Regions from separate parts of the Homo sapiens genome. Here regions 1 and 2 are each linked to region 3. Evidence: fine-mapped expression QTL. A gene starts in region 3. Each other region holds a variant in brackets. All regions are shown on one strand. Distances are from middle to middle.

Region 1 (11,011 bases), 57 kb after region 3:
CCTTTCAGTGCTGTGTGTATGTATGTATCTGTGTTTCACAGGGTGGGAGATGTGCACAGGAATAATTAGTACTTGTGATGATATTGCTCTTTAAAATATTTTTAAATATTTTAACATATTATTTAAAATGTAAAAATATTATAGTTTAGCTACAGCCACCTTGTATATTGTATTCTTTAAAAATGCAATGAGTGGATGTTAAATACTCTCACCAAAAAATAGCTGTGTGACATAATGTATATGTTAATTAACTAGATTTAACTATTCCACAATGTATATATACTTCAAAATATCATGCTGTACATGATAAGTACATAAAATTGTATCTGTCAGTCTCGTAAAAATTAATAAACAGATTCAAAAAAATTATATTTTGCATTTTAAACTTTTATAGAAAAATAATTTTATTTACAAAAATTTATAAACATTGTGCAGAGAGTTTTCTGTGCTCCTCACCCAGCTTCCTCTATGTTCACACCTTATATAACCATAGTACAAGTAGCAAACTGAGGAAGTGAATGAGGATATGAGGCTATTGGCTAAATTACAGGCCACATTAGAATTTTGCCAAGTATTCAAACTGTCTGTTTTCCATTCCAGGATCCATTTCAGGATCCCATATCAAGTTTAATTGTCCTGTCTCATTAATTTCCTCCAAATTGTAGCCATTCCTCACTTTTCTTGCCCTTCATGTCCCTGACAATTTTGAGGAGTACGAGTTGGTTATTTCGTTGAATGTCTTCGACCTGGGTTTAATGTTCCTTTTATTTTCCAGGGAGGAATCTCCCAGTGTTTGTGCCATGTTTTGATCTGACTGAAAGCCATAAACATAGCCGAAGCCTGGGCCATCCACAGAAGACCCAATGTTCTCTTTTTCCAAGTGGGCATTTTGTATCTCTGAAGAGTTCTAGACTGAGCTACATCAGTAGACCTCTGCATTTAAAGGGAGCAATTCTCATCCGAGGATCCTGATTCTTCTACTGTAGTGCAATTTCACCACTCTCTCCAAATGTCTCCAAGCAAATTCAAAGCAGCTGAAAATAACTGCATGCCTGAGAGTGAGAGAAATTTCTTAAGTGATCGACCAAATCTGGGTCTGATTAGTGGGTGGATGCCTCATTGGAGAGGCTGATTTGAGAGTCGGGGTACAAATAATAATGGCTAATAATGGCAAACAATTAGTAATTGCTAGGTGCCAGGAGTTGTGCTAAATGCTTTACATGAGTAGATAGGATATTGCAGATCTCAACAGTTAAGAAATTTGCTTGTGATCATGTAGTTTGGAGAGTATCAGAGTCTGAAATGAAGACAACTTGAGGGTCAATAAACAGGAAGAAAAAGTACTCTACAAGACAGTTTATCTGATAACGGTATGATGGAAGATGGCATCAGGCGGAGGTAAATGGGACGAGGGACTGGAAGAAAACCACTGAATCAAAGACTCTTGGAGTTGAAAGTTTCCTTAGCAACTATCTAGATTCATTAACTTCTTCACAGTTGAGAGATTTCTGCATTATTTTTCTTCCATAAATAACCAATCTCTGCTTAATTTTTTACCAGACCACCCCATCTACTCCTGGGCTACCATTACCATTCAAGTCTTTTCCCTTCTTTTGGACTAAAAACTACTTTTAAAAATTGTCATCCATTAGTCACAGTCAACCTCTCTGGAGTTAACAAGATAAATATGTGTCTCTTTCATTTGACAATCCTTCAAGTATTTCAACATAACTATAACATTCTCCTTAAGTCTTTTCATTTCTATTTGCAAGTTCTTCAGCTATTTTTCTTACAATATAATTAACAGTCCTTTTGCCAAGCAGGGTCTCTATTATTTAGTAAAAGGCAGGCAAATACTGGAAGACTATTCACATTTGAATTTGACAAAAAAAAACAAACGAAAGCCATTTTACAATTAAGGCAACTTAGATGTCAGGACAAGAAAACTGTAGGACCAGCATTAAGTAGTCAGTTGAGTGTGGGAACATAATCCACAGGAGAATCTAGTGTGTATAATGAAAGTCTGGAAAAATTCAGTATAATATCATTTCAATAACTATTCCTTTTAAGATTCCCCTTAGAAGAACACATAACTTAGATGTCCTGAGGACAGAATCTGGAGCACATCTGAGCATTTATAAACTGGATTCTGCCTGGCACTTAAAATGTTTTCCTATTTAGGAGATTTAATTGTCAAATGAGGCTTTTATCTTTTGATCCTATCAACTGATATCCTGCAGAAAACGCTGGATGATGGATTTCTTTGGAACACACGATCATTCTGTAATTTTACCTTTCTTTCCTTTTCCTCTGTTTCTTTACTTGTAACTGAACCCTGAAATAGAACTTAATCTGTCAGCTGCACTCTACATTTGTTCTTTTTGCACAGAAAACACTATTATTGCAGATATTCAAACTATACAAACTATACATTTTTCTTAAAATTCAACATAGTTGAAATAAAAAGGTTTTGCAAATGTATTTAAAACTCTTCAGTGCTTACTATGCTGTTTTTACATAGTATCTTTTAGTAGGAAAAACAGAAACATGGCGAGGTAATGTCTCTTTTTTTTTGCCTAATGCTAATTAAATAATCTGTAAACTTAAATACTATCAAGATTTTGAATCAGCTGAAAATCAAACTGAGTCATTCATAATTTTTTCTGAATCTTGATATTTTTGCAGTTATTCTGCAGAGTGTCTTGAAATGCTAGAAGCTGTAATAATTTGTGGCTATTCTATTTCTCAAGGACATTAGATAGAAATTTCAAAAAAATACTTCTGTTCATAAGACAGTGAGTTATACCCATCTTTAGGGAGGTAAAGTAGACGTTTTGAAATGCTTTTGAGATTTCAGGAGCCATGGTAAAAAGAATAGAAGCAGTTAGATTCTTAACTCTCCCTAAATGTGTTATTATTTAACAAAAATAGGAATTGATTGAATAGTTTTGAGTCTAATTACCAACAGTTTACTCCATTTGTGTTTTAAAATGGGAAATGTATCTTGATTCATTAATGGAAATTGCTTCATTTTGTCCTCCATGAAACATGGAGATGTTAAAGTTTTATCATAATACAGTTGAAATTACTTAGTAAGATGAAATTACTAATTTCCACACAAATACAACGCTTACTATTTCATTACTATTACTAGTAATTTTCATCTTTCATTTTAGTAATTATATGGTCTGCACTATATAATTCTTTCTTTCTGAAAGAATACTCATCAGAAGTTATATTAATACTTTGAAAGGTTTATGAAAAATAAAAAATGAAAGATGCCCAGCATTTTTTTTCTGGTGTATTTTTAGCAAGATCAGATATCATAGAATTTAAATGAAGAACTTTGCTCTACGTAATTAGTCATTGATCAAAGAAACGACAAATTTTGGAATGAAAATAGCAAATTCAGTTAAAATATTCTGCAAAAATACTTCTAAAATTATTTTTAAAAGATAGTTGTTAAGGCATAGGACTAGTACTCTTGGATACTATTTTTTCTAGGTGTATCATATGAGTATTAATAATTCAATCTGAAACAAATCAGTAAGCTTTCTAGTATTGAAATTTTCTCTTTTGCTTTCCTACTGTGTCACCATCGTACTGTTTTGTTTTACACAGTGAGAGCATAATTTTCTTCTACAGGGACCACGAAGCTTCAGGCCAGCCCTGTCCCGAAGTCTTCTGTGCTTCATGTCGAGTGGTCTGCAGTGGACTGTGTCTGCTTGAAGCGATGCTCCGGAGGGCTTATTGTTGTGTGGGGTAAAGCATGAGATCACTGAAAAATGAGAGAAATCGAGCATACGAAATGTGAAGCATATCTGTTGACACCATGCGCTCCCTTTGCTTGCACTGGATGGCGCATGGTTTCCGTGCGCAGTGCCTGAGGTGTGGGGCAGGCGAGGCCCATGCAGCCTGGCTCCTTTCCAGAAGGTTGCTGTTCATTACAGCTCGAGTGTGCTGGGTTCTGCAGATATTATCTATTTTAAATTAACGCTCCGTAAAAGGAATTTAAAGTTTTCTGAAAAGAAACCAATGAATGAAGCTAATAGTAATAATGCAAACACAAGCAAGCTGCCAAGTAAGCCATTTTTCTATTACGGAGCCCTTCATCAGTCATATTATTAAAGAAAAAACAACAATACTAGTAATAATGATCACCTATTCAAGACCAAGAGGTTGATCCTCCAAAATTCAAACAAGGAAAAATCTCTCCCAATCTCTCCTTTCCTCCATCCCTTTTCTTTACTTCTCATCCCATATATAATATTATATAATGCATACGTAATAAAAGACATTCACTATTATTAGCAATGATTCCTTATCTGTATATTGTGCCTTAAGATATATTAGCAAATGGTGTGCATATTTAGAAGACTTATTTTTAAAAATAATATATATGTTGGGGTAAAGGGTCAACCCTTTATTCATTGACAAGCGAGGTTATCAAAGAAGTCTGGACTCATTTTTGCTCTTCCAAGTCTAAATATAAATTTTGGTTTATAAAGGATTTCATATGGTTCCCAACAGCACATTGTAAAAATTCAACTCTCTGCCTTACTAGTTATTGAAGTCATCTTACAGATGGCCACAATAAGTCCCTTCTTATTTATTTTTGCCAATATAATTTGTAGGGTAGATGTATGTAGTTTGCTTGATTCTGACCGGAAATCTGTTCTGTTTCCTGCTTGACTGAAATTTGGGGCAATGGAGGCAGCAGAAATATGCAAATATAAACCTGAGTTACACAATGGGCTTTGGTTCAGTGGATGAATATTATTTAATTTTCCAATGTCATTGTAAGAAATTGAGAGATGAACTTGAACTTTTAAAACTTTGTGGACAAAATATCATCAATATTAAGGGAACAAGTTTCTTAAACTTTAGAAGGAAATCAATTCTAATGTGTAGTTAACCAGATTGTTCATTGTTGGGTTTATCATTAACTTGGTCTTTACCTCATTAACTTCCCTCTGTCTTATTGTTTATTATGCTGCGTTTATTTTCTCTGTAATCAAGTGTAACTGTAGCATTGGGGAGAGTATTAGATTTTCTATAGATTTGGGTGTTTCATGTGCAGCAGACCACGTGCTATTTTTGCCCGAGCAGCTCTTGTTCACCTTTGTTCTGGAGACAGAACTCTCCTTTAATTTTGGAAACTTCCCCTCCTATTACTGATAGGGCTGTCAATCGCATGTCCCCCAAGCCTCCATCAATGTGATGGCCAGGGACTTGTGTGGGTCACAGACTCAAACCTGAACTTCTGCCGAAGATATCAAGAAGGAGAAGCCCTCTATTTACTGAAGTCTCTGACTGTAATAACTGAGTGAATTGATATCTTCCAGCAGCCACTGTAGCACCACAAAAGGAAGGCTTGTCCAGGAATTAAACCAACACAAGGAAAGCCCAGACAAAGAGGGAAGGATGGGCTCATGATGTTTGAACCTCTGATCTGTCTATGCCTTGAGCCAGCCACACTGCAGGATGCTGTTGCTCCAGCAATTAAATGTTCTATTTTTGTTTAGGTTAGTTTGTGTCAGTGTGTGTCACTTATTACTAAAATGTTCCTGAGATAGACAACACTGTGGAGGGAAGATCATATGAACTTAATGATTTGACCTAAAAAATGGCAATTTCTTAGGATTCAAACCAATATAATAAAAAATGCAGGTGGTCAGATGACTCAAGAACCATTGCTTTGTGTTCTTGGCCTCTTTGAGCTTCAGTTTCCTCATATTGAAAGGAGA[GAGAT/G]AACTGTCTACCCACGCATCGGTTCACACACAGAAACGGGAAATGCAGGATCAGGTAAAGCATAGAAAAACCTTTGTAGACTATCTGGCTCTATAAAATGTTACCTATTGTTACACATTGGAAGATCTGATTCCTTGAGATATATTACAGTGTATAGAGTGAGCTTACTGGTCATGCTTAGGAAAAATTTTGGAATTGGTAGCACATGTGAGGCTGTGAAGACTTCAAAATTTGACTGCAGATGTTATAAAGTCCTGTGTTTTGGCAGATAATCATCTCCCCATTTAGAATTCACAGGACTCATCTGGCATCCGGTGGAGTTGGTAGGAGCTGATTAATGCCTGGCTTCTAGTGGAGATGATGAGAACTGGTCAATGTAAGTTACGTTAGGATGGCATTGTGGACGTCAGAAACCCAAAAGAGGACAGAAACCCAAGCCTAAACAAAAATAGGACATTTAATTGCTGGAGCAACAGCATCCTGCAGTGTGGCTGGCTCAAGGCATAGACAGATCAGAGGTTCAAACATCATGAGCCCATCCTTCCCTCTCTGTCTGGGCTTTCCTTGTGTTGGTTTAATTCCTGGAAAAGCCTTCCTTTTGTGGTGCTACGGTGGCTGTGGAAGTTATTACAGTCAGAGACTTCAGTAAATAGAGGGCTTCTCCTTCTTGATATCTTCGGCAGAAGTTCAGGTTTGAGTCTGTGGCCCACACAAGTTCCTGGCCATCACATTGATGGAGGTTTGGGGGAGAAGTGATTGACAGCCCTATCAGTACTTAGTCTATGTTGCTTTTAGCCAGTACAGTTCATCCCAAAACAATCTTCTAAAATCGGTACTCTAAGCTTATCACATGGATTAACAATTACTAAGTGGTTCTATGAAAATCCCAACTGAGTTACACAGGCAAGATCCCAACCCAAGATTGTCCAAGTATAAAACGGAGGCTCAGTTCCTCATTTTGTTACTGTTGCTTTGAAAAGTAAAGACCATCTAGCCCTTCTGCTGCTGCAAATGAACTAAGAGATGAGGTAGGGTGCTTTGTGGCCTGTGACTGGTTGTAGTACATCCAGTCATAAGGGGAAATTCAATTTCAGGTTGGAAATCCTTATAAATCTATAGTAGTGTGTAAAGGAGTGTGGTACTTCTGAAAGTATAATCGCCATCTTTTTAAAAGGCCATTTTGACACAATGTATATGTGTGCATATGTACAAACTTGCTCACTAAAATGGACATACAGTAAATCTGGGCTTTGTAACTAGGACTACACGATACATAACTCAATAATTAGTATATGAGGTACTCTGAAAAATAAAAATGGTAAAATATATGGAAGACACTGCTTTAAAGAGATGTAATGGGTCCCATTTCGGAGAAAGAAAAACAGACAATAAATCTGTTGAATAAATACAGACTAAAATCTGGATAGAATTATCTCTAATGAGTTAATGGGTTAATTCAAAATAATATTTTAGACTTCCAGCCACAGGCTCAACAGATTCACTAAGTCTGTCCTCAGCATCAGTTTTCTGAATCTGTTCTATATTTATTTTAGTGGAAATTAGTGGAGAATTAAGACAGAACTAAATTACTTTTCCATGATGTGTACACTGCACTCATTCCATAAAAAGAGTTTCCTCAAAGTTTAATTTATCAATTGGAGTGTAAGATTAAAATAAAGATACTCTCTGGACATATACAAATATACACATATGTACACAGATATACATTTCTCTCTCATGAAGCTCTCCATGGTACTATAGGCATAGAAAAAATTATGTCACCAAGGACAGAATTTATTTTATAAAATGATTTCTGAGATAAGTAGTTGCTGAAGAATATCCCACTGACATTCTATGATATTTCAAACTCAGACTTAACAGACTTGGAATCTGCTTTTTATTGTATAAATCAATTTTAGCAGTATTTGTAAATAGTAGTAAGATGCCAAGATGTGAACATTAAAGACTTTTGAAAATATTCAGAAGTATATACAATACAATGTTTCAGATAAACATTAGTAGCCTTATGCTCAGCTTTGAAAAGAAAAAAATTCTTTACCCAAAGAAGAAATATTTTTACATTTTTATAAGTTATCTGTTTTTCATATTGCAACTCTATACTAAGCACTGGTTTTTCTTAATATTAATTAGATAACCAGAGTGGTAAAATAGATTTGCAATTTATAGAGCAAAGATTTGTATTTAGAATAAACAAAGAACTCTTAAAAATGAATAAGAAAAATTTAAATACCCAACGGGAGAAAATGGCAAATAGTATAAAAGAAGGAACCAAAAGCCAAGAACTGTTCAACCATACTAGTCTTTAGAGAGATGCAAAATAAAATAATAGCTTCACATTTATTCTGTTGGCAGATGAGGAGGTAGGCAAACAGGAATATATATACATCCCTGGTAAAATTGCAAAGTAGTACCACCTCTTTAAAGAGAAACTAAATAATATTGAATAAAGTTGAAGTTACCTATACCTTTGATTCAGTAACTTCACTTCTAGGTGTCTGTATTAATCCATTTTTACAGTGCTGATAAAGACATACCCAGGAAATTTTGCAATTTCCAAAATAAAGAGGTTTAATTGGACTCACAGTTCCACGTGGCTGGGGAGGCCTCACAATCATGGCAGAAGGCAAGAAGGAGCAAGTCACATCTTAGGTGGATGGCGGCAGGCAAAGAGAACTTGTGCAGAGAAACTCCCCCTTATAATACTGTCAGATCTCATGAGGCTTATTCACTATCACAAGAACAGCACAGGAAAGACCCACCCCCATAATCCAATCACCTCCCACCGGTTCCCTCCCACCACACGTGGGAATTATGGGAGCTACAAGATGAGATTTGGGTGGGGACACAGAGCCAAACCATATCGGTGTCTGTTCTAGAGAAACTTTTACACAAATGCACAAGAAGATTATGCAAAATGATCATCATTGCAGCATCGTATATAGTAGTAAAAAGTAGAAGCAACTTAAACATAACTTTTTAGTGTAATGGCCAAAAAAACCCCGATTTAATCCCATAATACAATAAATAGTATGTAGCATATGTAGAACTAGATCAGCATGGATCAAACTAAAAAATGTAATTAAGTGTAAAAGGCAAGCTACAAAGCAACTAAACAGCATAAAACAGTAGTGTAAATTTGTAACACAGAAGCAATAGCGTATAGACTTCATACACATCAGTTTTCTGAATCTGTTCTATATTTATTTTAGTGGAAATTAGTGAAGAATTAAGACAGAACTAAATTACTTTTCCATGATGTGTATACTGCACTCATTCCATAAAAAGAGTTTCTTATGCAGGTGAAGTACCAAAACAAGTCTGAGAATGTTACACACCACTTTCAGATTATAAGATGCCTCTGGGGAGAGAGAAATAAATAATAGAAAGGAAGGTCATTGCTTTAATTTATAATGTTTAGTTTAATCTCTTAAAAATAAAAGATCTGAAGCAAATACTGCAAAATGATAATATTTGTTTAACCTCTACATTTGGGTGTTACATTTTGGTGTTACATTACCTTTTCTATAGGTTTGAAATATATTATAATAATACAATACAAAATGTAATGAACTGGGGCTGGGCACAGTGGCTCACGCCTGTAATCCCGGCACTTTGGGAGGCTGAGGCAGGCGGATCACCTGAGGTCAGGAGTTCAAGACCAGCCTGGCCAACATGGTGAAACCCCGTCTCTACTAAAAACACAAAAATTAGCTGGGCATGGTGGTGCACACCTGTAATCCCAGCTACTTGGGAAGCTGACGCAGGAGAATTGCTTGAACCCAGGAGGTGGAGCTTGCAGTGAGCCGAGATCACACCACTGCACTTCAGCCTGGGTGACAGAGGGAGACTCTGTCCCCAAAAAAACAAAAACAAAAACAAACAAACAAAATGTAATGAATTGGATATTACTTCAAGTTGAATGTGTTAAAATATATTGTTTCACCTCTTTTCTTTAGCTTCCCCAGCCTATCCTTCCAAGGTAAGTCCTGAGCAAACCTTGTTTTGATTTGATTATAGAGGTGAAAGCTTTATTGCAATTAAGTAAGTGCATCACAGAGTGTTCCAGACATTGAGACTCACTTAGGAAGCTCCTGATCTGTCTGTAAAGGTCAATGCAATGGGAGTTGTAAAGAATAAGCTAGGTGCTATCCATGTTGGCAGATCTTAGGAAGGAGACATCTGTCCGAGGACCCAGGAACTACTTTTGGAGGTAACAGAGAGGGAAGAGTGTGAGGTCATGGGAGGTGGAGGTGCTTAACCTCATGATCCTGCATGATTTATGTGGCCAGGGAAGTTGAGGTATGCACAGCCCCCTTCAGCACTGGCTGGTCAGGCAATGAGCCTCTTCATGTGTAGGGTCTGGTACAAACAAACAGCAAACAGCACTTCACCTGCATGAGGTCCAGCGAAGATAAAGGCAGATGGACTGGGAGCATGGCTTCATGACCAGGAACTGCTCTGGGGAAGCCATTTCCCAGCTAGAAAGGTGAGAGGTGATTGTGACAAGTAAGGGAGCTGATGGTGTAAGGTGTAGTTTTGAGCAAACTCTGTCCGCTGCACTCTACCTCACCATCACCTCTTCATCTGTCAGCAAGTACAGCAATGGGCTGGGATGTTGTGGTTCTAGCAGTTCTACAGGTAAAGGCTCAACGGGGAATTTGTATTCGGCTCTGGGCTCTGATGAAGATGAGGCAGGATGGTTGGGCTGATAGCCTGAGCAACCCCACTGACTAGCTGTGTGGAGGAAATACCTCTAAATTGATGTGCCCGATTCCACAAGTGTATGGGATTTTTAGACACTGATTTTCTGTTTGTTCTGATTTCACAAAGTCAGAAGGTGGTACCTCATAACAAAAAGGGAGATGGAAGCCAATAGGTTCTGTTGACAAATTACATTTGATTGACATACAAAAAATTGCCTGAATTTTAGTCTCATGTGTTTATGAAACAATGAAGGGAACTAAATTTGGAAAATGTCACCCTCCCACCCTCCCAACCCCAACATTTTGTATATCTTTTCTTTCCAGCTTTTTTTTTAAATGGCAAAACCTTTCATTTGCTATATATCTAGCTATGTATTTAGTTGTTTGCAGAGCTGAGTAAAGTATTCATGATATCATTTCTTTCTAAAGTGAAGCATAGCATTCTTTTAAGCTGCATATCAAAAGGTAAACAAGTAGAGAAACTGCTCCTTTGAAGATTCTGCATGAGTCTGTTGCTAGTTAAATTTTCCTTGCAG
Region 2 (11,011 bases), 690 kb before region 3:
ATCAGGGTGGGAAGTATCCAAGTTACTCTAAATATGGACGAGCCATGATACAGCAAATATACAAGAAACATTCAGTCCTTTCTCAGGACACACTAAATATACACGAGCACTCGGTATGCCTGAGACCTTGACTTAGCCGCCGACTGGTGACACCCACTCTGGTCCCAGAGTCTTCTGCCCCAGCAATGCAATAAATCCCAGGGCTGTTCAGCTAGCTGGGGACAATCCACAGCCATCTTCCAGGCTTACTTATCCCTGTGTCTCTCCAGGAGACCAAATGAGTGCTATTAACCCGGGACATCTTGCTCAAACCTCAATTACTCCATCTGCAGGAAAGATGGATGTGGCATTGAGAGAGAGCCTGTGCGTGTAGAAACACTGCACATCCTGGGATTCAGGAGTACGACTCCTCCACCCCATTTGCACCCTATCCTAACTGTTAACTTACCCCATCTACTCTCCCTTGGGTCTAGATGCAAACTGATTAATACACCATGGTCTATGAAAAGTTTAAGTTGGTCTATGATTTTTTCTGTTCAGTCACCTGTGGGATCACTTTCTTAGGATTGTACTTATAGTCTACCAATGCACAGAGCGAATCTCCCACACGACAGCACTCTTCTAAAGCAGCTGCAGAGTTTGACCCTACGAACTAACCCTGACAATCAGACGCCATCCGACATCCCTGCTGTCCCCACCAATGTTGCTATGCTAATGCCACAGTGTCCTCTGATCCTGTTACTTGGATGACAGGAACTCTTAAGCCATACAGCTATTGCTAAAATTAACACCTTCTATTAATTGAGGTCTGGTCTAAGCCCTTTTTATCTATCATTTCATTGAATTGTCATGGGAAACCAGTGATATTAATGGTATAATTATCCTTCTCAGATGAGGAAGCTGATATATAAAGATAAAGTTGTCTTGATCAAGAGCTAAGGTCACACAGCTAATAGGAGGTAGAGCTTAAACGCAATCTGAGCATTGTGGCCCCAGAACCCTCACTTTAACTCCCACGTTCAAGGCTGTCTGTGGCCTTCGTGCTTGGCCTGTGAATTGTACAGTCTCTTAATGCACGTGACCCTCTTGAGCCTGTCAATGAAGCTCACTTTTTGTTATCTCCCCCACACCTCAGTGTACTTTGGATTTGAGAAAGAGACTATTTTAAAGGAGAGATCAGCAGGAAGCTAAGGGAACTGCATCTCAGGCTGGAATAAGGCTTTAAATTAAGAATAAATGCAAGATTCTGAGTTGTGTCCAGTGGTTAAGCCCTGGACGAAGGTGAGGGCCGAGGCAGTGTTCCCCTCGAAAGCTGCTCTTTGCTCTACAGTTCTTCACCACTGGGGAAGCTTAAGGGTAGATGGAATGAAAAGAGACTTACACTGTCACATGCAAGAGATTTAGGAAGCTTCATAAGAAATTGTTAGGAGGTCTTCATTTCATCTCAATTAGATCCCATTCTGTTCTTTCTAATCCTGCTCCACAAGGCTTTTCCTGTAACTTCACACATATGATCGTATTTAGTCCACATCCAATCCTGTAATGAGGCAATGACTCTATTTTACTTTATTTTTTCATTTTTATTGTTACTATTTTTTTTTTCCATAGAGACAAGGCCTCACTATGTTGCCCAGGCTGATCTTGAACTCCTGGGCTCAGGTGATCCTCCCACCTTGGCCCCCCCAGTGTGCTGGGATTACAGGTGTGAGCCATTGCACCTGGTCCCTGTGACTCTGCTTTAGAGATGAGAAAATGGAGGCTCAAAACTTGCAGTAATAGCCCCAGGTTACAATGCTGATAAATCATAAAAGTTGATTATGATACTGGCCTTGATGACAGCAGGATACGTTCTTTCCATTTAATCTCATCACTGGTGAGCCTACACTGATAAGAAATTCACAGTCATATTGTCACACTGCCTTTTCACCCGGTTCTATAAGGCACTCCCTGGCAATGAGTCATTCCTGCCTCAGCCCTTCTTCCGGAAGGAGGGGCTTGACCGGGCAGAGCAGCGGCTGATTTCCCGGGAGATCAGAAAGATGCAGATATGAGCAGGAGAAAGGACAGGAACTGGAAACCCGTAAACTGGGCAGAATTTAAATGCTCCTTTTCTCTGAGAGCGGTCCATTTTTACACATTGCAGAAATTTTCTCTGCTCCCACCTCCAAACTCACTCACAGTCCTTGATGTTTTTTGGCTGCATCAGCATATCCAGCAGTCAGGTTTCATAATTATCTTGTTGGTCACATGTGGCCCACATTTTCAGACATTCCGGAAATACACCGTGTGGTCTGTGCATCCACACACCTAACAGATCACTCGGGCAGCGCCGACCTGCAGAGCGACTCACCTCCCGTGTCATCTACCATCTGTGCTTACCTTGTTGCAAGAGGCAAGAAAATTCAGATGACATGGATTTGTTCCTGATTAATAGAACCGTAACCATTAATGAGCACAACTAGCACTAATATGCTTTTAAAACAGGAGCAAATTAGGCCTCTATGTGGTTGTAATATGTTATCAGCTAATTGATCGTTGCTGTTTTTTGTGGATTGTTAAAAAACAATGTGGATAAAACATGGTGGGAGGGATTTTAAAAAACAATGCGGATAAGGAGACTATCTATGAAATAAACAAATGTTTAATTAAATTAAAATTGTACAATTCTTTTCACTTGTTAATTTTTTTAAGAAATCCTTTGAAAGAGTGCTTCTAATTAAAACCCAGATCACTGGACCCTAAAGTACAGCAAAGGGACTTCAGGAGACTTTAAAGTGACTGCAGGAAGCCCAAGAATCCATATAGATTGAAAGTCGTAACCACCTTTGGCATATTTATTACCATTTTCACATTTAAAATTACTATTTTCAAATGCAAATTTTCACTGAACAAAATGGAAATTCATATGCAATTGATACTGAATTCCTAGTAACTTTTGTTCTTAATCATTTAATTGATTCTTTTCTAAAAGTACACTTTCTTTTTTAGGAAAAAATCTGAGAGAAAAGGTCATTACAAAGTTGTCCTCCCATTCTAGGGGTCTGGGAACCACTGATCTAATCAGGTTCTCTTTTTCTGGTATTGCACCCATTTGAGTCACGAAGAGTGAACTTTTGACACAAGCTGTCAAGATTTCCTCATAGACACGAGTGATCTATATCTGAGTCAGCCTGGGATTTCTTCGTTTCTTCCTTTGCCTTTGGTATTATTTGTGCAAATCAGCATTGTAAACCATTTTCCAGTGAGTTGTAATAGAAACCCAGGGCAAAAGGTCACTTCCGTTTTGGAGCCTCCCTGACTCTGCAGAGTTGCTCCCTCTGTCCTCTGCCCCAACACAATGCCTCATAATCCCCCTATTATACCCCTCAACTCAAAGCTCTTCTACCAGCTGCTTACATTATCTCCAAAAGAAAAGGGAAAGCTGAGATCCTGCTCCTTGGGAGAAGGTAGCTCTAGATCCAGAATCCTAAGTGTAAACATGTTACAGTAATTACAACATAGATGGCATCTACCAAGCACTAAATGAACCACAGGTAATACTGATCATTGATAAAAGTTAATTCTCTTTACACCACTTCTTCTTGATTCTGGCCCTTATAACATGATTTAGAGACATCAGTAAATTCAGAGGGTAATAACACTAAGCATGGAAAACAGTGACCCAGGAGAAGGCCATGGAGTAGGGATGGTACAATAGGAGAATGAATGAAGAAGATACAGGCTTTTCTAAAAAATGGTGAGGAAAGTGAGGCAAGAATCCTGGAGGCAAGTTAGGCAGGTGGTAAGAAGGGTAGCTAGTGCATATGATATCTCTGTACTGTTGTTAATGCAAGTACTAACTTATTCCATTTTCTGAAAAACACAAGGACAAATATACATTTAATTTCTCCACATTAAAGACAAATAAGCTTACACTCAGAGAGGTAAAGTAAGTTGTCCTAAACCCCACTCACAATTAATGAGTGGCAGAGGGTGATTCGTATCCAGATGAGCCTGATTTTTGAGATGCACCTTGAGCCAGGACAAAGTGGACATGGACTTACCTTCCATATCACCCCCGACGTCTTAGTCCACCACTCGGCATAGTACCACAGGTCTGGGATGAAGAACAGAGACAGAGGAGTCTGAGAGAGAGACTGGGGAGGGGTCACTTCTGTCAGACACATTATATTATTAAGTAGTTTTACATGAGCTTAATCCCTATGGCAAATGTATTGGAAAAGTATTACTGTTATCCTCTTTTTGGAGTCCTCTTTTTTTCTTTTTCTTTTTTTGAGACAGAATTTCACTCTTGTTGCCCAGACTAGAGTGCACTGGTGCAATCTCGGCTCACTGCAACCTCCACCTCCTGGGTTCAAGTGATTCACCTGCCTCAGCCTCCCAAGTTGCTGGGATTACAGGCATGTGCCCCCATGCCTGTCTAATTTTTTTGTATTTTTAGTACAGACAAGGTTTCACCAGGTTGGCCAGGCTGGTCTGAAACTCCTGATCTCAGGTGATCTGCCCACCTTGGCCTCCCAAAGTGCTGGGATTACAGGCGTGAACCACAATGCCCGGCCAGAGTCCTCTCTTTGAATTGAACTGAGACACAGAGGAGTTTATTGACTTCCCTAATAGCACACTGGAAGGGACTGGTGGAACTGCTTGTTATCAGGAACTACCTTATTTACCTTTATCCATCATATAGCAGGATGTCTGGCTTAAGATTAGTGTTCAATAAAGCATTCTGTAAATTGGTTAGATAAGAAGTTCAAGGGCAGACACGCCCTGCCTCTACAGGCAAGACCACTGGGGCTGAAAAAGAAGACAGGCAGGAGACGAGGCTTTCTCCCTCCCTCCCTCTTTCCCTCTTTCCATTTTTCTCTCCCTTCCCTCTTCCCTCCATTTCTTCTTCTGAAAATATATACAGAAATTGGCTTTGTGTGAGACGATTTTGTTCAACTGCAGGCTAAGTGTCCTTAGCACGTTTGAAGAAGGCTGGGCTAAGCTATGATGTTCAGTAGTTTAGGTGTAT[T/C]AAATTTATTTTTAACTTACAATATCTTCAACTAATGACGGGTTTACTGGGAGGGAACCCATCTTCATTCAAGGACTATCTGCACGGAGTATCCACTATATGACAGAAACTTCAATAGAAAACCTGAAAAAATGTAACCTCGCTTAGCCCTCAATAAGCTTGTAATAAAATGAGGGCACACAACTATAGTCAAACAATTAAAATGCAAAAATGTCATGATTAAATAATATTGAGTTTCCCTCTGTGGGGATACTTTAGATAATGCTGAATGATGAACAGAAATTGGAAGAATTTTACAAAATGGGTGGAAGACCTTTCACACTGGGAGAACACAGGCATGAGGCAAAAACTGTGTGAGACAGAGGAAGCACAACTCTTCACTATGGCTGAAGGGAATAAGGAGTATGGGGTAACAGTGGGGTCACTGGGCTGTGAAGAGTATGGTACCTGCCAGGAAGGAGTCAGCACTCATCCTAAGAAACTGAAGAATGCAATCATGATCAGATTTGTATTTTAGAAAATCCCTTTAGCAGAAATAGAAATAAATGGTGGGAAGAGTGATTTGGGACAGGGAGATGAATCGGGCTATGTTTCTGTTAAACATTTGGAGTGAGAATAAGCAAAACCATGGGATCATTCTGAAGCTCTTCACAGAATATTCAGGTTTATGTAATGATGCATAGTTTAAAATCCAGTATCTAACATGGCTAGCATGTACAGCCTAGAGAGGCATGTGCAATGCAAATGAAATGTTAAGATAGAAGAGAAGACAAACATATTTTACTTGTAATGGAAATCATTTCAGATTATGTCCAGTTTTGTCTCAGGCTATCTCTCTGGGACTCCTTTCTAATTAGGGGGGAAAGGGGGGCGGGGGGGGGGCGGGCAGTTTTAGAAGTCCTAAGAAGGGAATATTGCTGTCATCCATAGAAGAAATGATGAAGATTTAAGAAAACGAAAGTAGACATGGAGAGAAATTGATGAATTCAAGTAATACCAAAAGGGTAAGATCAAGAGGACTTGGAGACAGTAGTGTGATGAAAGAAAAGAAGAAAAGAAGTCCAGGGTAACTGAGGTTTCTGCAGGAAACGTGAGAGCTGGAAAAAGAGCTGCAGATGTGGAAATGAAGAGGATGATCACGGTTGTAGTTGTACCAAGCCAGAAGTGGCCATGGGGCTCTGAAATGAAGAAACGATCAAGATACAAAATAAGAAGTCATTGCACGCATTGACAATGGAAGCCTGGGTGTGAATGAGGCTCACCCAGGGAACATGCACACAGTAAGGAGAGAAGAAAGCCAAGAGGTCTCCCAGGAAACATGGATATTTTAAAGATAAGCAGTGGAAAATGAGGCAGCAAATGAAATGAAGAAGGCAATTTCAAAGAGTGAGGAGAAAAGTCAAGGAGATGGATGTTATGGACATAAAGAAAAGGACACATTTCAAAAAGGAGGAAGTCAACCCTGGTAAATGGTGCCCAAAAGTCAAGAATGTTCTCTTGCTTTGGCCCCAGGAGAGTGAGAATGACCTTATGCAGGTAGTTACACTGGCGCATGCCCCGACAGAGGACAGCACTCCAAGTTTCAGTGAGCACCATGAGAAAGGAGAGCAGGACTTGACGGGTCTACTGGGAGGAGGGCCAACCACGGAGGGTGTTCATAGTTACAAACGTAGGCACTGCCTGTCATTCCACCTAAAAGGCCATGCTCAAGAGTCATGTAAAACACATGAAGACTGCAAACTTAATTGATAAATGTTGTGTGGGTTCTGACTGCTCCGCCAACTGTCTGTTTCTCCATCGGCTCATGAGGCTTAAGGAAAGAAGCCATCTCCATAACACAAGTGTAAGGCAAAGCAGCAAGTGCTGATGTAGAAGCTGCAGCAAGTTATCCAGAAGATCTAGCTAAGATCTGATGAAAGATCAACATGCCAGATATAATAATGAAAAAGTTTGAAACATCACGAGAATCACCAACAGGTGACACACAGACATGAAGTGAGCACATGCTGTTGGAAAAAATGGCACAGATAGACTTGCTTGCCACACTATTGCCACAAACCATTAATTTCTAAAACATGCAACTTATGTGAAGTGTAATAACGTGAAGCACAATACAGTGAGGTATGCCTGTATTTGACTGACCCGGGAATTCTGGCCTGTAGCTTCAAATCAAAATCCCAGGCCAGGCATGGTCGAAAACACACACACACACACACACACACACACACACACATACACGAAGGTATATCTTGGTAATTTTTCCAATTTATTTTACGTATACTTTTTTCTTTTAAAGCAGAAGGATCCACTAAAGACTGTTTTCTACAGTGCTCCTCTGAGAATGCCAATTTACTACTGCAGTGTTCACTGAGTGTTCCCCAGACGAGGCATCAAAGGATGACTTCTTGTTTAATCTTTCCAGACACAGTTTTTTTTAAAGTAGGAATTGTAAGTAATTCTGCCCTTATCCCTAAAATAATACACTGGGAAAATTGCATTCCTACATTTGCCATTGTTATTCAGTGCTGCGTAAGTTTGTGTTCACTCTCCCTTACGAGTGTCTCCTATCACTAAGCTCAGCCCATTTAAAAGGTGTCAGGAGGATGACCCACCATGAACTGTGCTGTTTTCCATGCCCCAATGACATTGATTCCATCAGTGACTGTCAGAGCTTGGATGGAGATCCAGTTTATGTCTAGTAGCACAAGTAGCAAGGAAGGCCATGTTACCAGTGCCTCCATCTGGACGTGTAGTAAGTGGCAGAGCCCTTTCTATTTCATCATAGTGGAGGCTGCGACTGTCTTGGGCACCAGTGCTGTGGCTACAAGGAAAGAGTTCTGGGGAGTTATTGGTGATACCCTATTCCTGGCTGTTTTTCAGTGTGGTATTAAAATTATTGATATACAATAATTATTTCTCTTAGTTATAAAAACTCTTTCTTTCTCATTTAGAAGGAAAACTACAATTGCTTCTCTTGAAATTGAGTTCTAATCAATAGTATGATTCTTTGCTGTTTTCTTAGCAACTCAACAAACCTTCAGTTTTATCTGGGTTTGTTGTACCATCTACAACTTACTGTTGCTTAACTATCTCCATCCTTCACACACACACACATACACACACACACACACACACACACACCCCTATACGTGCATGTGTGGCCCTCTTGCATCTAATAGAAAGTACAATGTATTTGTACATTTCAAAGGTAACCACTAAAGCATGATTCATGAGGCATTATTGGGGATCTCTTTGTCTTTACTATGTTGTAAAGGTTGCAGTGGTGCTTATGCAATTTGGTTCTATTCTTGGCATTGTAAAGTCAGTTTAATCTCATTCTCTACATCTGGAGGCTTTTGCAGAGCAGTGACTATTACATACTTAAGAGGATTGATATGACATGAATAGTGCTTGAGCGATTAGGTCTTGGAAGGGGATTTTGTGGGTGTGTCTTGCTTTCCTGTTCTATCATGCACTCTAGACCTCTGTAATACCTTTTTAAATAACTCTGACACATCTTTTGGGATCTTCCATAGCTTTTTTACATGCTTTTTTAGTCTTTTTATTAATCTCCTTACATAGACTGCCTTGTTCTTTGCAGACCATTTTTCACCAGGGAGCTGTTCTTTATTTTCTGTTTTCCATGGTCTTCTCATGTAGTAAACATTCCAGAACCCACTCTTTTCTTTTCTTTTTTTTTTTTTTTTTTGAATTTAAAAATTTCCTTTTTGGGCATAATGTCAAATTCTAAAAGTTTTTCAGGTATTGTTCTTAAATTCCTCCAGGGAGTAAGTGATAACTTACTTTCCTATATTTCCTTCACCTAAACTTGAAAAGTGAATTTCATTTTCCCTTAAGAAATGATTATGTTATTTCAATGTTTTGAATGGGATATTTCTGGACTGATACCATCGTTTCTGCTGGTATTTTTTTTCTGAATGCATCTTTTTTTTCTGAACTATTTCTGAATTACTCAATGTGTTGTTTCCTCATCAGCATATAAAGCTGCCCAGACTAAATGTGTCTAAGGCTGAGATGTCAATGTTTGCTTTGCATCCACCTTCATACTCATAACCTGGCAGGAAACATCATGTGAAAATACTCTTTATAAGGATATTAATTATTAATATATCTCTCAACTCCACTCCATGCTAGTTTCACTCAAAAAGCAAAGAGATTTAATGCTAAGGCCCCTGAGGCAGTGAGGGTGCCACCTCTCAAATTGTGATAATCTTGTCGACATTTTGATATTGGTTTGCAAGGAAAATCCCTTTTAGGTGATGCTTTTGGCAGGACAGTGACACAATAATTTGTACCACACAACCTCCCAGGTAAGAGGGGACAGAATGCCTGTGAAACAAATAAGAAGATTAAGTTAACATGGGAGTTCCTTCAAACAAAATAACTCAGTGACACCCAGAAGTGTCAGTGGAAATTCAGGGAGCACAGGTTTTCAAAGAACTTTTGTGTCAGAAAGGAGCTTTTAAATTTGAACAGCTCAGGAATTAATAAGATCTGGGCCAACAAGCTTTGGCTCTATCCAGACTGCTTGTGTACTGACAGCTTTCTAATGTGGAGACAGAAAAGCTCTGGGCCTGGAAAGGGAGGCCTGAGCAGACTCAACTGAATCCTCAGGCAAGGGAGTCTTGACATGGTGGTGTTTTTGACCAATTGTGATGAAATTTCTGTTTATATTATAGCTTTGAGGTTTTAATCTTTAGAAATAAAGCTGGATGGCTAGTATTTATTTAAATGCATTTTCTTCTATCTAGAGCAGTGGTTCTCAACCAAGGGTGATTGTGCAGCCACTTTCTATGAGATATTTGGCAATGTCTGGAGATGCCAACTTGGGGGAGGGGAGCTACTGGCGTCTACTGGGTAGAGACCAGGGATCCTGCTACACATCCTATGATGTACAGCCCAGAACTCCCCAACAAATAATTATCTATTCCAAAATTTCAGTAAGTCCAAGGTTTAAACACCTTTGTTTAGATCAATGGAATATACAATTACGTTTTTTTAACCTCATGATAGTCAAAGATGAAAGCATAAATTAATAATCAAAAATATACTTTGCAGTAATAATTTCTGTTTCTGTACAAATCCTGAGCACTGGTTTCAGTTTCTGCAGATCCTCAGCTGATGCTTACTTCAATTGGAGAAAGAAAAGAGCATTTCGTGTGAGACAGTAATTTCACAATGAGACAGGGTTTTCCATTCATCCATCAGGCCTAAAGCAAAACTAATTTTGTAGTAAATTGTATTTCTTTATTGATTTTTATGGAATCTGTGCCGATTATAATAAAAAACTTAATAATGTATGTAATTGTTGATTGTTTTCTAAAATATAATTATAAGCCAATTATTCATTCTCACACAGCATCAAATAACAGAAACAATGAAAGTAAATCCTAAACTTCCTCAATCTAAATTGCCATAATTTTTAAGGAACACAAAAGGAAATTTTTGTTTTTGTGTTTCTAGTGGAAACCTTGGAAGTTAGGCCTAAGCAATGAAAATAAGCCTGACTTCGGGTACCCCTTTTTCATATTTGAGAGAAGTGTCTTAACTCAGTAATCGATAATTAGCATAAATCTTTGCATGGAGATGAAAATGCATACTCTCTTTTTAGTTTTTAAAATGTCTAAATTGGTTATTTGCTAACTATGAGATTCATTCTTTTTTCTTTAGCTATTAAATGGACAGAAACAACATGGGTACTAAAATGTTTAATTATTCTGTATATTTAAAAAAAAAGTGTCCATTCAAATCAGTCTTCACGTAATGCCTTGATACTACAACTCTCCTCAAAGACTTGGATGTGGTCTTGGCCTCTGTCCTTCCACAGCAGAGTGTGGGTTGGCTGGGAAATCCCTTTTGGGGCATGGAGCTGACCTCAAGAAATGCACTGTGGGTGTGAGTGCAAGGGCCAAACAGTGTGCTTCCTTCTCCTTACTTAGTTTTGAGCCTCACACTTTCCCAAAGCAGCTTTTTCCA
Region 3 (11,011 bases):
ATGAAAAAGGCAAAGCTTCTCTTCTAAAGCAAGCAAACAAACAAAAAAGCTTGTTGAGAATGGACAAATGATCTAGCTCAGATGTCCTCACAATCAGTCTCTTAGCAAAAATCAGTTCATGAAGTCAGAGAACCTCATGGTGGTAGGAATTGTGATGGGATTTATTCCAGTCAGTTCTTGTTCTAATGCTCCCATCATGTGATGAGGTAGCATAAGTGAGAACACAACTCGGGCATGCAATTAGGTTTTTTAAACCCATTTCCTGGGAATTCTTGTTTATCTTGGACAGTAGAAGATTCTGAGGGGTAAACATGTTTTCTTTCCTATTCTTGTACCATTATGCCTTCTAATTTCCATTCATTAGTCTAAATTCTATCAACTGGGGCAACATTGAGCAAATATAATTTTCTTTCACAGGATGATGTGATGGTTAATATTAAGTGTCAACTTGATTGGATTGAAGGATGCAAAATATTGTTCTAGGTGTGTCTGTGAGGGTGTCGCCAAAGGAGATTAACATTGGAGTCAGTGGACTGGGAGAGGGAGACCCACCCTCAATGTTGGTAGGCACCATCTAATCAACTGCCAGTGCAGCTAGAATAAAGCAGGCAGAAGGTGGGAGAAGATGACTTGCTGAGTCTTCTGGCCTCCATCTTTCTCTCATGTTCGATGCTTCCTGTCCTCGAACATCAGAACCCAAGTTCTTCAGCTTTTGGACTCTTGGACTTACACCAGTGGTTTGCCAGGGGCTCTCGGGCCTTCAGCCACAGACTGAAGGCTGCACCGTCGGCTTCCCTACTTTTGGGATTTTGGGAGTTGGACTGGCTTTCTTGCTCCTCAGCTTGCCTATTGTGGGACTTCAACTTGTGTTTGTGTGAGTCAATACTCCTTAACAAACTCTCCTTTATATATTCATCTATTATATTAGTTCTGTCCCTCTGGAGAATCGGTCTAATGTAGATGGCCTTTCAGATATTTGAAAATAATTATCCTACTCCCTCTGAGTTTCTTTAATACGTATTTTTCTGTTTTTATCAAAATCTAACCCCTCTAATGTGTTCAGGTTCCCACCTCTTCTGGCTTCTCAAGGACTTCTCTTTCCTGTCTCTACCTCATTTTGTCAATCTCTCTCTCTCTCAAATACATTATCCTATTAGAACTATCCATCATCTAGGATAGTATTCTACAACTCTGCCAGATTCAACATCCCCCTTTTTAAAACAAATATTTTTGCTCCTTTCTTTCCCTCCAAAATGAAATTTGTTGACATTATATCTTACACACCTGGTAAAAATATGAATAAAATGCCTTAGCCATAATAAAATGGAGAAATAAAAGGTATGCAACATGTAATAGGATAATACGTTTTAATACGTAAATGCTTGGAACATGAGGTTAGTAGTTTCTGAAATGGCTCCCAGTTATCCCTTTGTGCCATTCCCTGCCTTTGAGAGTGGGTTAGACCTAACTTGCTTCTGATGAAGAGGGTACAGCAAAAGTGATGGCATGTCCCTTCCTTGATTGCATTATAAAAGCTGTGACTTCCATCCTCTCTCTCTACTCCCCCCACACACCCTGTTTTCTCTCTGGCTCTCCTTGCTATTCTGATAAGGGAAGCTGCCAGATAGAGAGGCCTATGTTGAAACAAACTCTGTGCAACCTCGGGCACATTGCCAGGGAGGATCTGAGGCCTTCAGTCCCAAAGTCTGCAAGAAACAGAATCCTGCCAACAGCCACATGTGTGAGCTTAGACATGGATCCATCCCCAGTTGATTGCACCTTTTATCAGAGCCCCTGAGCCAGAGAAACCAGCTGAGCTGTACCTGAATTCCTGACCTACAGAAACTGAGATAGTAAATTTTGTTGTTTTAAACCACCAAATCCTTTAAGATAATTTGTTACTCAGCAACAGATAACTAATATAATCCACAATGAAGAAGTGAGATGCTTGCATCTACTCTTAGAGAATTATTTGGATATGAGAGGCGTAAGATCAGAAATCATTCTCAACAGAAAGTTCAGGGCAGAGAAAGAGCAGAGAGCCAAGTAGACCCTGGATTAAAAGCCAAGGTTAGGTTAAAACTAGTTTTAGGATAACCAGAGTTATTCCAATATTTATTTTAAAAAATCATCCCTTCTACAGCCAAACAATCTTCATGGCATTTATTCTAAGTTAAAAATCTTAACTAAGAATAAGATCCTTGATGCTTTAGTTCCCTGGATGAACACTGTGATTTGTTTATAGAACCTACATGTCTTCCTTGACAAATGCTATGATATTAAAAAATGTATATCCTCAATGCCCTTTTAAACAGTGTTTCCCCCCTCAAATGTGTGAAGTTTTGATGATAACTCCACTCTTTCCTTCTCTGCTCAGCCTCAGGATGTTCCATCTGCCCTACTTGAATGCCTGAAGCCCTTCTTTCTCCAATGACCCTGAGGAAAATCTTGAAGGCGTTTCTTAGTCTGTGGATTTTTTCTCCACAAGGGTATAAAATAAGAAGATGAGGGAAATAACCTTAACTGAATACATGGTGATATGGTTTGTCTGTGTCTCCACCCAAATCTCATCTGGAATTGTAGCTCTCATAATTGGGAGATAATTGAATCATGGGGGCAGTTTTCCCCACACTGTTGTCTTGGTAGTGAATAAGTCTCATGAGATCTGATGATTTTATAAGCGGTTTCCCCTTTCACTTGGCTCTCATTCTCTCTTGCCACCACCATGTAAGACGTGCCTTTCACTTTCCACCATGATTGTGAGGCCTCCCCAGCCACGTAGAACTGTGAGTCTATTAAACCTCTTTTTCTTTATAAATTACCCAGTCTCGGGTGTGTCTTTATCAGCTGCATGGAAACGGACTAATACACATGAATAGCACGTCAAGACAAATGTTACAGACTGAATGTTTTGTTTGGACCTAAATTCCTGTGCTGAAGCCCTGACAGCCAATGTGACCGTATTTGGAGTTGGGGACCATAAGGAGGGAACAGGGGTTAAAAATGGTCAAGATCCATGAGGCTTAGAGAGACTAGAGAGCTCTCCCTCCTCTCCCAACCCAGGTGCACACAAGCAAGAGATCATATGAGCACTCAGTGAAACGGCTGCTCCTACAAGCCAAGAAAAGAGGTCTTAGAATAAAACCTAATTTACTGGCACCTTGATCTTGGACTTCCAGCCTCAACAACTGTGGGAAATACATTTCTTTTGTTTAAGTCACCCAGTCTGTGATTTTTTTTAATAGCAATTTGAGCAGACTAAGACAATAGGTTACAGACTCAGGCCATTAAAGTGACAAAAATGAGGAAGTATGGTAATCTTATAAATAAGGGCAACCTTATTATTTGTAAATATAGATAAAAAGAATTTTTTGTTATGATGTGGGTCAGAGTGGTATGGAGTGTCATAGAAAACACATTTCTTTGCAACTCTACCAGGTTGTAGACCATCCATACATTCAGTCCTAATTTTGGACGAGATTTACAAAAGTTGTGTAGGACAAAGGGTTATTTCACCTTTGCACATTGGCATGATATCTGGCATCTCTGGCTCCTCACTACTCAATTCCAGTCATTCCCCTTTAATGATTTGACAATCAGAAATAATCCCATAAATTTTCAAAACTCCCTTCTGAGTGGTGACACCCCTATTGAAAATCATTCCTCTATTATTTCTTTAAAATTCATCATCAACTGCTGTCAACTCTACTGTCAAAACAAGTCCTGCCATTCATACATGATTAGTTCATGACCGTGAGCAAGAATCTGCCCTCAGTTCAGTGAGGGAGCATGAGATCTAGTCCTAAATCAGTCAGTGCACTGTATTCATCTGGTGACAATAGCTAGACATGACCCAATCAGAGCCAATGACACATAATGGAGCTTTTGATTAATAGCTTGGGAGACTCTGGTCCTCCCAGCCACCTCGAATGACAGAGGCTGTAGGTATGGAGCTGCTTAACCATCTGGCGTGTTGCAGAGCCTCCAGTAAAAACCAATCCAGTGGAATGTATAGTTGGGTTTCGGTTCTCTTTGTGTGATACTTTCCCTGCATTAAGTCATGCAAGATTTGAAGAGGAGGAAACTATATTCCTGCTTTATAGTCAGATTGGGGGACACCTAACAGCATGGTGCAGGAAGAGCTTGTATATGGAATCTGTGACCCTAGTACTTCCATATAATATTTTCTGCACTTTATCAATCACTGAACCAGTTATATGCTCCAAAGGTTACATCTTGTACCCTGAAGGGAGGAAAGAAGAAGAAGCAAATTTACACACAGGTACACAAAATACCTACCCAGTTCTAATTATTTTGTTTATTGTCTGTCTCTCTTCACTTGAACATAATCTTCATAAGGCCAAAATTTTCTACCTGTTTCGTTTATTGCTATACTCCTGGTGCTGAAGATGGTGGGATGAGGGAAAGGTAAGCCTTGGCTTCCTGGTTTTCTATTTGCCATCTAAACAGTATTTATCAATATCCACTTCCTTTCTGCTTTTTAACTTTTTATTATGAAAAATTTCCAATATATACAAGGTAGAGAAAATATAAGTGAAATTCCTTGTACCCGTTACTCAACTTCATAATTATCATGGCCAATTCATTTTCACTTATATTCACCACAACTCTCCCTCTTTGCTTCTCTAACTAGATTATATTAAAGCAAATCTCAAAAAGCTTCTACACACTTCTTTTAAAAAAATTTTTATGGGTACATAGTAGGTATATATATTTATGGGGTACATGAGATAGTTTGATACAGACATGCAATATGAAATAATCACATCATGAAAAGTAGGGTATCCATATCCTCAAGCATTTATCCTTTGTGTTACAAACAACCCAATTATACCATTGTAGTTATTTTTAAATGTATTTGTACATTTTAAATGTATTTTAAATGTGGTTGTATTAATTTACTTTCCCACCAAGTGTATGAGAGGGTCCCCTTTTCTCTACATCCTCTCCAGCATTTGTTATTGCCAATTTTTTGGATAAAAACCATTTTAACCAGGGTGGAATTATATCTCATTGTAGTTTTGACTTGCATTTCAGTCAAATGGACCATTGGAACCCAGATCAGGGCTGAAACTCCATTTATTTCCTGGCCCACAAGCACCCTACTCCAATAGAGGGCCCTAAGGAATCCCGAGTTCTCTGGGTGTGAATGTCAGCTCAGGCCCTGTGTCCAGCATTTCTCAAAATGTTTGCATATTCTGCTTTTCCACTGTATAGTTGTTTAAACAAGTGACCACAGGCACATTTGGCAAAGAACCATTGGAACCATAACTGTGTTCCCTTGCCATGGGTGCTCCTGAGAACCTGACCTCCCTTTGAATTAGTGGATTCTGGGTCAGATAAACTGACTCAAGGATTAAGATCTGTTTTATTTCTTCTTCCATCATCTATCACACACTTGTGGCATTTCATCTTTACTTAATGTGGGCTGTAATTTTCTCCAAAGTTCCAGGAGTCATCCTAGCAGTGTGATGAAAACATCTCCCAGAGTCCTTGCCAGGGTGGCAAATCATCTATTACAGTAGACTGTGCCCATATAAATAAACTCATCATTTTCCAACTTCATGCTTCCCCTGCTTTGATTCATCCCCCTCATTCAGTCCCATGAAGAGTCTCTGGCTTTGGCCATTGCACGTTGGCCTGCCGCCTTTAGGCACATGGTTCCTTCCTTTGCTCAGCAGGCTCTGCATTTCCCCTCCACATGCTGTCTCACTTGACTCTAGTGATGGGTCTGGTCAAGGCAGGAGGTGGGGGTGGGTCCTGAGGAGCACTGTGTTGTCTTGCAATGCAGAGATTCCTATACCATGTTCAAGCAAGGGCAGAGCACAGCCTCTCACAGGGAGGTCAGGGCCACCTCTGTAGGCCCGGAGGGCTCTGAATGGAGTGTTGAGGTTTTGTTTTGTTTTGAGATAGAGTCTCACTCTGTCACCCAGGCAGGAGTGCAGTGGTGTGATCTTGGCTCACTGCAACCTCCACCTCCCAGGTTCAAGCGATTCTCCTCAGCCTCAGCCTCCTGAGTAGCTGGAACTACAGCCACACACTGCCACGCTTAGCTAATTTTTTGTATTTTTAGTAGAGGCCAGGTTTCACATGTTGGCCAGGCTGGTCTCGAACTCCTGACCTCAGGTGATCTGCCTGCCTGGGCCTTCCAAAGTGCTGGGATTACAGGAGTGAGCCACTGTGCCCAACCTCAAGAGTTGAGGTTTTGAGAGCATTAATTCTGTTGTCTCTCTCATCCCTAATAGGCCCCTGACATTGTCATAGCCATAACCAGACTAACCAGAGCTAAGAATTCAAATTTTTTTGAAGTGCTGCTATTCTTATAATTAATTCCTGGGCCTTATCCTTAGATTTTTCAGTCCTCCTGCTACAGGAGATGAGTCTCTTCCGATGCCTCCAGTGAGGCTTTCTCCCTTTCACACTTTCCTTTCAATGATGATTCACAGCCCTGAGCCTCACTTTGTCTTTCTCTAATGCCTCCAGTGACTCAGCCAGAGCCATTAGAGTCCATTGTTCTCAGGACTGGTAATTTCTCTAACTCCCAAAAGCCTGGGAGATTGCCATCTACCAGGGTATTCTCTCCCACCTCTTTCCCACCCCAGGTCATCACCAGTGAAAGTTCTGACACTTGCACTTCTCCGGCAAGCCAGGGCCGGGGCTTCACTGCCAGCCAGCAGGAGGATGAGCCAGCTCTGCAGTTCCACTTCAGAGTCCATCTTCTTGGATCACTCTTGGCACCAACTGTATTGAGTTGAGTTCTGGGAAATAGACTTGCAGGTAAAAATTTCCATGAGAAGTTTTTTGGGGAGTGATCTTAGTGCTTATACCTATAAAGGAGTAAACGCGGTAACACTGGGCAGAAGGAGATGTTGAGCTTTGTTGCAGTTGCAGCAGAGGAATCGGTCAATCTTGCATGGAGTCTGACCTGGGAGGGCCTCCCAGAGCTGTATCACCATGAGGCAAGGGGCCAGGCCTCTGCATCCCACCTTTGTGCACCAGTCATTGGATGCAGCTGCCCCTGGGATGGTGCTATGAACTTGGGCAGGGTGGCTGTCTTCAGCTGGGAGCCGTTTCCAGGAAGGGACCCAGTGGGGAGCCCTGACAACCACCCCCCAACCCACCAACACTCTCAGCTGTGGAGAGGATGACAGCGTCTGCCTGGGCATCACAGCAGCCACAACCGCCCCTTTTTCACTCCTTTTAATCTGTCTGCCCCCTTTTATACATTTATTCTTCCAAGGTTTCTATTCTCAGGCTTTTTCTTCTTGGGTCTGCCTTTCTTTGGGGGGATGGGGCTGCGGGGAGTGTTGCATCTACTTCCTACTACAGATGCTGTGCCCTGTCCTCGGATCTCCATGATTCCCACCCACTGGTTTATCCTTCTGTTTGTACCAGTCCTCTTTGGACTTCCCACCTGTTTGCATCACCTCCCCAACTTCCCGATTCGACCCCCAAGTCCTATATCTGTACGATACCTGTGCATGCCTTGTATGGAAGTCCCCATGGCTCGTACGTTGTGGATCCAGGCTTCTGTACTTCAGTTCCCAGCACCAATATCACAACCTGTTTGGAAGTGGACATGCGTTAAATTCGTGCATGTTCCCTACTTTTTGCCTTGGTGTCTAATTCTGCTCTCTCTTTCCACCCCGCCCCCCTACCTCAGTCCATTATCCACAGCTCTTACAAAGCTACCAGAGGAAGCTTTCTAAAATATGAATCTTTATTCATCGAAAAATATTTATGGAACGTTTGCAGTGTCCCACCTAGGTTATTTTCTAGGCATCTGTGATGAACAATACAGTCAAAGTTCCTGCTCTCACAGAACTTACATTTTAGCCGGAAGACAGGCATTTAAAACAAGCGAATGAATGGATAGATGCTATGCTAGGAATTAGAATGGTAAGATAGCATGAAGACATGGCTGTTTTATAATAATATCAGTTGCCTGATTAAAAATTGTCAGAGGTTTCCCATTGTCTTCAGGGGAGAGTTCAGACTCGCTTGGCACAAAAGACTCCCATGGAGAAAAGTTCTGGGCCCCTGGTGTGGATCAGATGGCCCCTTGAACTTGGTAATTTGGGTGGCTGACTCTTCCAGGAGGCCAGTCCTTCTGCCCCAGTGGCCTTCCTCCTGGTCTCCTTCCTTCCTCCTCCCGGGATCCCTTCCCACTGGAATAATGTTGCTTTTAACCAAAGTGACAAAAGCCCAGCTGGCCTCAGCAGGTTTATTCTTGTCAGTGTCTCAAACCAGACAATGAACAATCCATTTCAACAGGGACTTTTGCCACTATTTCTGGGAAACGTGGACTGTGACATGACTTTTGGAAGAAGATATATTGTTTTTAAGCATGGAGGTGCAATGCTGATTTCTACTGAGGCTGGGCGCTGCGGCTTGATTTGCACCCACACAACACTCCCTCTTCCTAGCCCAGTATCCCCTCCCCCCCGCCATTTTATCTCACTGAGATTATAGGAGATTTTAAGCAAGAAAACAAAATGAAACCAAGCACTTTATCAGTAGGTTACAGGTCAAAGGCGATAAGTCCTCAAAAATCCCAGTTCTCAACAGGAACCTGGGACTTTTCACTGCACTCACTGCAGAGGTGAGGAGATGACAGAGGAAGCAGAAGGTCCCTTGCCCTTGGCAGGCTCCCACCAAGCTGCCATTACTTATGGGGCCATCTAATGAGGGATCTGAAGAAATTGATGACGGACCCCTAAACATCCCTGAGTCCAGCAAATCTCCTCCCCCTTCCTTCCCGCATTGCCGCTCCTCTTCTTTTTCCCTTTATTTGGCGTTATGTTCATTGCCTTTCCCCCACTTCTCTCTCTTCCTTGGACTCCTGCAGCCCGGGTCACTAACTTAGCTTTCACCCCCCCTAGTGGTAAGTAAGGCAAATCACCCATTTGCTTGTTGGTTCCAAGAGCTACAGCTACACGCGCTCTCATAGGGGCTGAACAGATATAAAATGAGAGAAGACATCTACTTATTATTTGAAGGAGGTTAAACTTTTATTTTAACCACAACAGATAGTCCCCAATCTTGAGATACTTATTCTTTATTATTTGATTATTACATACATAAGAAATTACAACTATAGTGTATCAATAGAATTTCATAATGTGTACAGTCAAGCCTTTTAGGTATTTTCTATTATTATACATAAAAATATAGTTAATGAAAAATAAAATCATTTCTCATTATACCTGAGGTGTGATGTAAATGAAGTTGATACTGTAAGATTGATATTAGTCACGGTGATTGCCCTTTTGAGTGAAATCAACATGCTGTACTAAAAAAAATATAGTACAATATTAGGGTTTAGCTTGTATTTCTGAGACTGGAAACGGTCTTAAGAGGGATGAGGTGAGCTGCTGTGATATGCAGAGGCCTGGGAAGACCTTTCTGCTGCTAAAAATTTTGCCCTGACTCATGTGGCCTTGGGCTAAAATCAAATGTTCACATTGATAGGAAGGCATCATAAAAATAAACGAATTGTCAGCTCTTTCTCCTTTCCACTGTTAAACCTCTGCAAGTTTAACTCTGAGCTGCTGGAAGGAGGGTGAGAGGTAGTTTTGTAAGGAACTGGGTGGATTTTCATAATACTGGGATGTTAAAGAGCAGAATGAGAAGTGTGACAGAGAGCACGGAGCACTTCAGGAGGTGGAAATGGTGTGTGATACTGTAACTCCAGCTCTTGTTGGACACAGCTTTTTAAAATTTGTATTTCATGAGTCCTAGGAAAATTCTTCTTCCCCAAATGGCAGTAGTACAGATCTGGGGCTGAAAGAAAGGCCTTCATTCTTTTTTTTTTTTTTTTTAATATGTAAAATGTTAACTCATTAAATCCTCCCTATGACATTATGAGGTAGGTGCTATTGTAACATTCACTGTGCTGATAAACTGAGACAGAAGAGAAGTTAGGTAACTTGCTCAAAGTCACTTAACAAGTAAGCAAGGGGTGCGGCTTCCACCCTAGCAATCTGGCCCCAACATGCGTGCATTTGCTTATTCTCCAGGGCTGCTCTTCTAGCTGGAGGATCTGGAGCTGGAGGTCAGAACCCGCAGCTTTCTGGCCGAAGGACATTAAGCCAGACAACTCAAACGTGTTGTATTGCTCATACTTTGGGTTTACCATGATCATGTAGGCAACACTGATTGATGATCAGTGCAACTAGGTCTGAAACAGGATATTCTTGTACTGAAGCTTAGTTTTATGCAGAATTACATCTTATCCTTCAGATTCTAAGCTTATTTCTGCACTGATAAGTTGGCATCTCGGTGGCCTCAGTTTCTGTGGGTTTTTACCCGGTTGAGATGAGAATATTCCTTGCTCCCCTAATGGATTTCCATTTAATTTTCTTAAAACAAAAACAATACTGTTTTTTAAAAGAAAGTGTTTTCATGCAGTTTAAGTGTTAAAAAATCAGTTTAAAATTTTCACAGCAGCAAGAGCAGGAAGAACTCAGGTTATATGGTCTTGACCACACTTGCCGGCATACAGCGTACTTTGTCCTGGGTGGGTGCTGAAGAAAAATGGAGAACAAAACCAACTCCATGACTGAAACACAAACTCAACCTTGCACATGCAGCAAATAGGTTGAGTTAAAAGAACAATGAAAGAGAGCTCAGACTCATTCTTGTTTTAGTGACTTTTTAGGTTTATTTTTTTCCAACTGTGATTTTATCCAGAGTGTTAGTATAAACTTATGTGGTTAGAACTGTTACCAAAGGATAGGAGATCTAATTCCAGATCAACCAGTGAAAGTCGGGTAGTTTTAACCACCAACATCTGCAACAGCTAAATAAGATCCATGTTGCTTCTGTTACACAGTGTTTCCTACTGTATTTTTGAAAATGTGCTCAATTGTCACATAGTAAAAGCAAATATTGAGTAGCTTCTGAGGGACAGTGGTACTTTTAAAAAAGTGATCCCAACTCCTATGTTCTTTAGAAACAATTCAAGTAAACATATTAAATAAGATTCCAA

Evidence for each region.
Region 1: its variant is fine-mapped to the expression of ARGLU1-DT in anterior cingulate cortex (GTEx, PIP above 0.99).
Region 2: its variant is fine-mapped to the expression of ARGLU1-DT in iPS cells (PhLiPS, PIP 0.95).

Annotation. Positions count from the first base shown.
Region 1 is chr13:106,667,871-106,678,881 of GRCh38, forward strand. LINC00443 (long intergenic non-protein coding RNA 443) reads left to right here. Exons shown (of 3, transcript NR_047026.1): 2 at 776-1,058; 3 at 3,646-4,310. Among named protein-coding and RNA genes, the nearest start is that of LINC00443, 19 kb to the left of the region's middle. The variant GAGAT/G (reference allele first, on the strand shown) is at 5,748.
Region 2 is chr13:105,917,341-105,928,351 of GRCh38, forward strand. No RefSeq gene overlaps it. Among named protein-coding and RNA genes, the nearest start is that of LINC00343, 220 kb to the left of the region's middle. RefSeq lists an enhancer at 1,448-2,647. The variant T/C (reference allele first, on the strand shown) is at 5,015.
Region 3 is chr13:106,611,236-106,622,246 of GRCh38, forward strand. It overlaps ARGLU1-DT (ARGLU1 divergent transcript), which reads left to right and starts at 6,575. Exons shown (of 4, transcript NR_051977.1): 1 at 6,575-6,798.